2 linked regions of the Homo sapiens genome follow. The protein of the gene in region 1 interacts with the protein of each later gene in a biochemical or structural test. Each region holds a gene or a part of one and is shown in the gene's direction. Other genes may lie near its edges. The genes, in order: CACNA1B and GNAO1.

Evidence for each region.
Region 2: the proteins of CACNA1B (region 1) and GNAO1 form a complex in vitro, tested with the Homo sapiens proteins (one study listed by BioGRID).

What each region holds. Positions count from the first base shown.
Region 1 is NC_000009.12:138,055,584-138,059,595, forward strand, and holds part of CACNA1B (voltage-dependent N-type calcium channel subunit alpha-1B), read left to right. Parts: intron 1-2,148; coding exon 2,149-2,286; intron 2,287-2,465; coding exon 2,466-2,667; intron 2,668-2,985; coding exon 2,986-3,150; intron 3,151-3,495; coding exon 3,496-3,606; intron 3,607-4,012. UniProt on the Homo sapiens protein: Voltage-sensitive calcium channels (VSCC) mediate the entry of calcium ions into excitable cells and are also involved in a variety of calcium-dependent processes, including muscle contraction, hormone or neurotransmitter release, gene expression, cell motility, cell division and cell death.
Region 2 is NC_000016.10:56,337,989-56,341,488, forward strand, and holds part of GNAO1 (guanine nucleotide-binding protein G(o) subunit alpha), read left to right. Parts: intron 1-2,845; coding exon of another isoform or gene 2,846-2,999; intron 3,000-3,500. UniProt on the Homo sapiens protein: Guanine nucleotide-binding proteins (G proteins) function as transducers downstream of G protein-coupled receptors (GPCRs) in numerous signaling cascades.

The sequences.
Region 1 (4,012 bases):
TGCAGTTTACTTGGAAGTTGATTTTTATGTGTTACATAAGGTATGGGTTAAGATACGTTTTCTGACGATAGATATCCAATTCACCCAGCATCGTTTATTTGAAAAGATCATTCTTACCCAGTGTAATGGATTTTTTAAAAAACAAAAACAAAACAGCTTTAGGCCAGGCGCGGTGGCTCACGCCTGTAATCCCAGCACTTTGGGAGGCTGAGGTGGGTGGATCATGAGGTCAGGAGTTGGAGACCAGCCTGGTCAAAATAGTGAAACCCTGTCTCTACTAAAACTACAAAAAATTAGCTGGGTATGGTGGCCAGCACCTGTAATCCCAGCTGCTCAGGAGGCTGAGGCAGGCGAATCGCTTGAACCTGGAAGGCGGAGGTTGCAGTGAGCCAAGATTGTGCCACTGCACTCCAGCCCGGGCGACAGTGTAAGACTCTGTCTCAAAAAAAAAACAAAAACAGAAACAAAAAAACAGCTTTATTGAGATGTAACTAACACATTATACTGCTTGTTCATAACAATCCACTTACAGTGTGCAATTAAGTGGCTTTTAGTCTATTTACAGGTACATGCAAGCATCGCCACAGTCAATTTTAGAACACATTTTCAGCACCTCAAAAAAAAAGAAAAACCCGCACCGTTTAACTATCATCCCCTACATCCCTGTCCCACCCCTAGCCAACTATGAATCTGTTTTTAATCTCTGTAAACCTCTCTGTTCTGGACACTTTTTGTAAATTGAATGATACAATATGTGGTCTTTTGTGAGTAGCTTCTTTCGTGTGATGTTTTCAGGTTTGTCCACGCAGTGGCTTGTGTCAGAGCCTTGTTCCTTGTTACGGCTGAATATGTGTTCTGTGCTGTGCCACATTTTCCTTATTCTTTCATTTGCTGATGAACATTGGGTTGTTTCTACCTTGTGGCTGTTATAAATGATGCTGTTGTATACATTTATGTCCACATTTTTGTGTGGGTCTGTTTTTGCTTCTCATGGGTGTGTACCTAAAAGTGGAATTAATGAGTGATTGGGTAACTCTGTGTTTAACTGTTTGAGGAAATGCCAGACTGTTTCCAAAGTGGCTAAAGCATTGTATATTCCCACCAGCAATGCATGAGGGTTCTGAATTCCCCATATCCTTGCCAACACTTGTGGTTTTCCATCTTTTTAGTTTTGGTATTTTTTAAACTACAGCCATCATCATGGGCATGAAGTGGTGTCTCGTGGTGGTTTTTATTTGCCTTTCCCTGATGATGAGTGGTGTTGAGCAGCGTTTCATGTGCTTAATAGCCATTTGTATATCTTCTTTGGAGGAGTGTCTATTCAGATCCTTTACCCATTTTTTATTTGGGTTTTTTTTTTTTTTTTTTTTGAGACGGAGTCTCGCTCTGTTGCCCAGGCTGGAGTGCAGTGGCGCGATCTCGGCTCACTGCAGGCTCCACCTCCCGGGTTCACGCCATTCTCCTGCCTCAGCCTCCCGAGTAGCTGGGACTATAGGCGCCCGCCACCACGCCCGGCTAATTATTTTTGTATTTTTAGTAGAGACGGGGGTTCACCATGTTAGCCAGGATGGTCTCCATCTCCTGACCTCGTGATCCGCCCGCCTCGGCCTCCCAAAGTGCTGGGATTACAGGCGTGAGCCACCGCGCCCGGCCTTTTTTATTTATTAGAATAGTTATTTACATATTCTAAATACAACTCCCTTATCAGACAGAGGATTAGGAAATAAGTATTTTTCCCATTCTGTGGATTTGTCTCTTTACGTTCTCGGCGTCCTCTGAGCACAGAAGTGTCCGATTTGATGCGGCCTGATTTATCTGTATTTTTTATTCTGTTGCTCATGATTTTGGTGTCACATCTAAGGCTCCATTCCCAGATTCGAGGTCACGAAGTTTTGCCCCCGTTTTCCTCTAAGTGTTTTATAGTTTTAGCTCCTTACACTTAGGTCTGGAATCCATCATGAGTTAATTTTTGTCTATGGAGTAAAGTAGGGTCACATTCATTCTTCTGCATGTGGACATCCAGTTTTCCCAGCACAGTCTGTTGGAGAGGCCATTCTTTCCCCACGGAATGGTTTCAACACTCTTGATAGGTGGGTTTATTTGGATCTTTTGTCTTTGCCCTCTAACCTCCCATGTTCTCATTCCTAGGGGTCAGTATTTGGATTATGAGAAGGAGGAAGTGGAAGCTCAGCCCAGGCAGTGGAAGAAATACGACTTTCACTACGACAATGTGCTCTGGGCTCTGCTGACGCTGTTCACAGTGTCCACGGGAGAAGGCTGGCCCATGTGAGTGCTCATCCTGCTCTCCGTAGCTGGGGCAGGCAGCCCCTGAGCTCGGCCTCCCTTCCTCCCTCTATCCCTGGGCTCAGGCATGGAAGCAGACCCACCCTTGTGGTGCAGGTCTTGAGTTCTTAGGGCTGTCTCCTTTGGGGGTTCCCCTGACACTTGCTCTCCTCTTTGCCCAGGGTGCTGAAACACTCCGTGGATGCCACCTATGAGGAGCAGGGTCCAAGCCCTGGGTACCGCATGGAGCTGTCCATCTTCTACGTGGTCTACTTTGTGGTCTTTCCCTTCTTCTTCGTCAACATCTTTGTGGCTTTGATCATCATCACCTTCCAGGAGCAGGGGGACAAGGTGATGTCTGAATGCAGCCTGGAGAAGAACGAGGTAGGTGGACGCTCTGTGGAGTCTTGCAGTGGACAGCGTGGGCAGCGCCATCAGGCTTCCCTCCTGCACACAAATCACTCACAGCTGGGTCAGCTTTGGCTGCCACCGTCTGCCAACACAGGGGCAGGTCCTCCTTTCTCCTGCAGAGGGACCGGATTTGGCTGGTTGAGGCCTGCTTGGAGAAGGTCTGGGCTGCTTCAATTTGTCTTCTGTTGTCAGGGCTCCCTGTGAGGCCTGGCGAGACAGGGCTGGGTGCAGTAGATGCCGTCGGGTAGGTTTTCTGCTTCTGAGTCTCTGTGCTCCTTTCTCCCCTTACAGAGGGCTTGCATTGACTTCGCCATCAGCGCCAAACCCCTGACACGGTACATGCCCCAAAACCGGCAGTCGTTCCAGTATAAGACGTGGACATTTGTGGTCTCCCCGCCCTTTGAATACTTCATCATGGCCATGATAGCCCTCAACACTGTGGTGCTGATGATGAAGGTGTGTGGGGCTCAGCGCAGAGGGGCAGCTGGCGCTGCTAGGGATTGGGATCTAACCCTGAGGCTGAGTGGAGAGTCAGCCTTCTTCCTCCCTGCATGAGCCAAAGCAGTAGTGGCCTTGCATCCTGGCCAGCATGGGATGCCTGTGGAATCCTGTTTCCCTTTGTTGTCTGTGGGCTGGGACAGTGGGGAGGTTCTGGGAGGACTCGGGGAGAGCAGGAAGGGGTGTCCCAGGCCTAGGCAGGCATCGAGTTCTGTCTGCCCGCTTTGCTTGGTCATAGTGGTCCCAGATGGGGTGTCTTGGGGCTGCCAAACCCATGGCCAACAGTGCCTATTCCCCGGGCAGTTCTATGATGCACCCTATGAGTACGAGCTGATGCTGAAATGCCTGAACATCGTGTTCACATCCATGTTCTCCATGGAATGCGTGCTGAAGATCATCGCCTTTGGGGTGCTGGTACGTGCTTTGGTCCCTGCTTTGCCTTTTGACAACCTATATTCTGGTTCCCCATCTGTAGGGCGACCTTTGGGGGCTCACAATTTGGAGCTGGGAATTCTCCGAGTACCCAGAGTATATGTAATGCTACAGGGGCCCTGGGGAAGGGGCTGTTCTGAGACTCTTGGCTACATAAGCTCTGCCCCCAGCCTAGGTCCTGGGAGGGAGGCAGGGCTGGGTTCTTCCTCTTTGGACACATGGCTCTTAGTCCTGCCTCTGCCCAGGCCCAGAGGTATCTGTGTCCCTGGCTTTGACATCTGCTTACCTCTGGCCTTGTGCTGTGCCCCCTGGGGTGGCCTGTCTGCCCTGTGCTCAGGGTCTATCACCCTCACCGCTTTCTTAATCAGGGCCACCACCTATATATACC
Region 2 (3,500 bases), on another chromosome or scaffold:
GGTGGGGCTTGTTGTCATGCTGGGCCTTGAGCGAGGCCTGTCCTCTCTCTGGGTCTGTTTCCTCGTCATTTCTGGCCCAGCTGGTCCACTGGGCTTTGTGAGGATGGGATCAACTTTGGGGTGTGGGCTACGGGGCACAGTGCTATAGGGAGGAGGAGCCGCCGCCCTGAGGGGCTTACACAGAGTGATGGGGCTTTGGGCTGGTGGTGTGGGTAGTCTGGACCCGTTCCGTGTACAGGCTTACCCACCTGACTCTTCCTATTTCAGGCCCACCTGTACCCCTGACTTGGGTTTCTGCTGTAATTGTTCTCAATGGCATCTGCAGGCAGTGATGTCAGTCACCAGCCCAGTCTTGATGCTGAGTGGGGCAAGGGTGGATGCGCTTCCTGGGCCGTGCTTGGACCCAGACTCACTGACCACCCAAAGCCCAGGTCAGCTTCCTGGCCATGTGCCCCTCACAGTGACTACCCAGACATTTCCCACTCCCCACTGCTAGACTCTATGCTATTACGGCCACTGCTCCAACTCCTGGGGTCTGAGCTCCACTTGGCTCATCTTTTTTCCCCCATGTCCACCACGGTTTCAAAGAGAGCAAAGGAGCTAGAAGCAGGAAGCCAGGAGGGCCCTTCCCCCTGGAATCCAGCCTCTCCCTGGACCTGCCCTGCCAGGCCTGTGGATGGCTTCAACCCAAGTCCCAGGCCCACCGGCCATGGGGCTGGGCTCTCGCTCACCTCTGGAAGATGGAAGCAAGGGACGTCTGGGTGAGCCTAGCAGCCACAGGCCCTGAGCTCTGCAGCCCATGGGTCCCCAGTGAGCATGAGCCTGGTGCTGGGCCTGGCACTGGGTGACCTTCCAGCCTGCGGGCCTTGCTGCCTGGAGCACTTGCCCTCCGGTCTTCTCCACCTTCTCTCACCTCCCTTTTTCCCCATTTCCCCCACCCTTCCACACAAGGGCTGGAGCAGAGGACCTTGGAGAAGCCAAAGCAAATGGAGCCAAGGTCACAGGCAGGCTCTTCCTGTGTCCTTCCTTCCCCAAGGCTGGCCACCTTTGCAGCCCGGGGAAGAGTAGCAGCTCGTGCAGGGAATGGGGATGACTTTGCAACCTGACAGCAGCCACAAAGGCAGCTCATTGCCGTGGTGGCAGCAAGAACAATACTGGCGCTGTAGAACTAAGCAGTCATCGCCGTGCGCTGGGGGCGCATGCAGAGGTGGACAGCTTGGGAGTCAGACAGATCTGGTCCAGGGTCTAGCATCACCCCTGCCGCCTGTGTGATCATGGGCAACCGCCCCACCCTGCCCGGGCCTGCACCTCCTCCTCTGTAGATGGTGACAATGGTAGAATGGACCACCGGGCTAAAAGCTGTAAAAGTGCCTGTACACAGGAATCATCACTCAGTGAATAGCTCCTGTGGCTACAACATTCAGATGCCATGGCTAGAGGTCAGGTTCTAGGATGTGGGAGCTCTGTCTGCCTCAGGGAGGCAAGAGCCAGGCCCCAGGAACTCAGGCCTTGGTCCTCAGCCATCCTCTCTGGTCAGCGCTGTGCATCCCTCTCTGGCCTGGGGTGAGAGCCTGCAACAAAGGTGTCTGGAAGCAGCTTCTGGAGCCAGGCCAGGAGAGCCCTGGGGCTAGTGGCTGCCACTGGCCATCCAGCCGCCCTGTCCGCTGCATCCCGGGAGCCCGAGAGCCTGGTCCTGGCCTCGTACCTGCTCTCAGCACCGCCCAGCCGGGCCTGCGGCTGCCACAGCTTCTCCACTACCACGGTCGCCTCCACTGCCTGCAGGGCCTTATCTTGCCAAACCAAGGCCAAAACCAGTTCTGAGAGACCCTCCAAGCCCGGAAGGTATGAAGCACCTCCCTCCAACTGAATCCATCAGCTAAGAGTTGAAAGCAGCAGGTTCTCAGGGCACCGCTGGGTGACTTTGCTGTGATGCCTGCCCAGCCCGCCCCTGCGCCCACACTCCTCTCCAGCCACTTGGCCTGGGCTCATCCCACCCATCCTGCATCTCTTGCCCTGCAATCCACAGGCCCAGGATGGCCATGGCCCCTGTGAGCCCGCACCGGGCTCTCTGCAGGAGCTAGCCAGGATGCCCTGGCCCTGAGACTGGTTGAACCAATTTTTCAGTATTTTTCTCTCTTTCTCTTGTTGGGTTTTTATCTTCTCTGTTTTCATCTGTTTTGCTGTGTTTCATCTTGGGGTTCCTCTGGCCCCTCTACTGAGAAACCAGCCCCAACAACCAGTTCTCCCAGAGCCTCCCCCGCTCCAGCCCACCAACGAGACCACCAACCACACCAAGGCCACAGCAAGCTCACCCCCGAGACGCTATTCCCTGGTGTCTGCTTCCAACTCGGGATTAATTCGAGGATCTCTTAGTCCTCAGTTAATGTTTCCCAACTGAATGCGTGCACCCTTCCAACCTTGCTGTCAAAACCGAATGAGACCCTGGTAGAGAAATCTGCATGAGCAGGGTTCCGCGCAGATGCGTTCGGTGGTGGTTGCGGCCCCTGCGCTGTACGTGCATGGTGCATGTCCTCTCCGTGAGCTGGAGCCTCTCCAGTGACCTCACTGCCCCCACCTGGGGCCAGCTCTCTTTGGAAGGGGGCAGCATCCCCCAACCCTGCCCGGCCCTGCTCCGCCCCGCCCTGCCTGCGTGTGGAATGAAACAGGACCACGTCCCGTCTGTCCTTGTGGGTCCTCCCGTCTCCGTCCTGGTGGTCTCCGTCCCGGTGGTGCATCCAGCCACATTGGTGGACCTTCCCTTTGCTTGTCCCGCTGTGTCATTGGCCGCGGTGGGTCAGGGCCCTGGATGCTGCCGCCCCTCACTCACCCCTCCACTCTGTTGCAGAACCGCATGCACGAATCCCTGAAGCTTTTTGACAGCATCTGCAACAACAAATGGTTCACAGACACGTCCATCATCCTGTTTCTTAACAAGAAGGACATATTTGAAGAGAAGATCAAGAAGTCCCCGCTCACCATCTGCTTTCCTGAATATACAGGTAGAGACCCCTCCAGGGACAGCAGGCCCCCGAGGGAGCGGGCCCCGTTCCCAAAGCCCAGTCCACCCTTCCTGTGCTCTGTGGATGCCCCTGACTCTGCCACAGAGAATCCACACAAACGGTCCCCCACCCTGCCCCCAGATTGTGCTCTAGAGAGGAGGGGCAGCTAGCCGGGGCTTCCTCATCAGGGAAAGCCGGTAGAGCCCTGGCTCTGCCACTTACGAGCTGTGTGACCATGGCGGCCTCTGGGAGCCTGAGCTCCACTGTCTGCGCACAGGGGCTCTCTGTGACGAGACGAGCAAACGCCGAGAAGATGAGGGGCGGGGCACAGAGGCTTGGAGTTAGGCAGCCCAAGGTTTATGCCCCAGCTCCGCCACTCACAAGCAGCTCAGGCAGGTCATGCAGCCTCTCTGAACCTCAGTCTCTGGGTCTGTGAGATGGGGTGATGGCTGTGATTGCCCTCGCCTCCCTCACCAGGTGCTATGAAGAGGGAATGAGCTG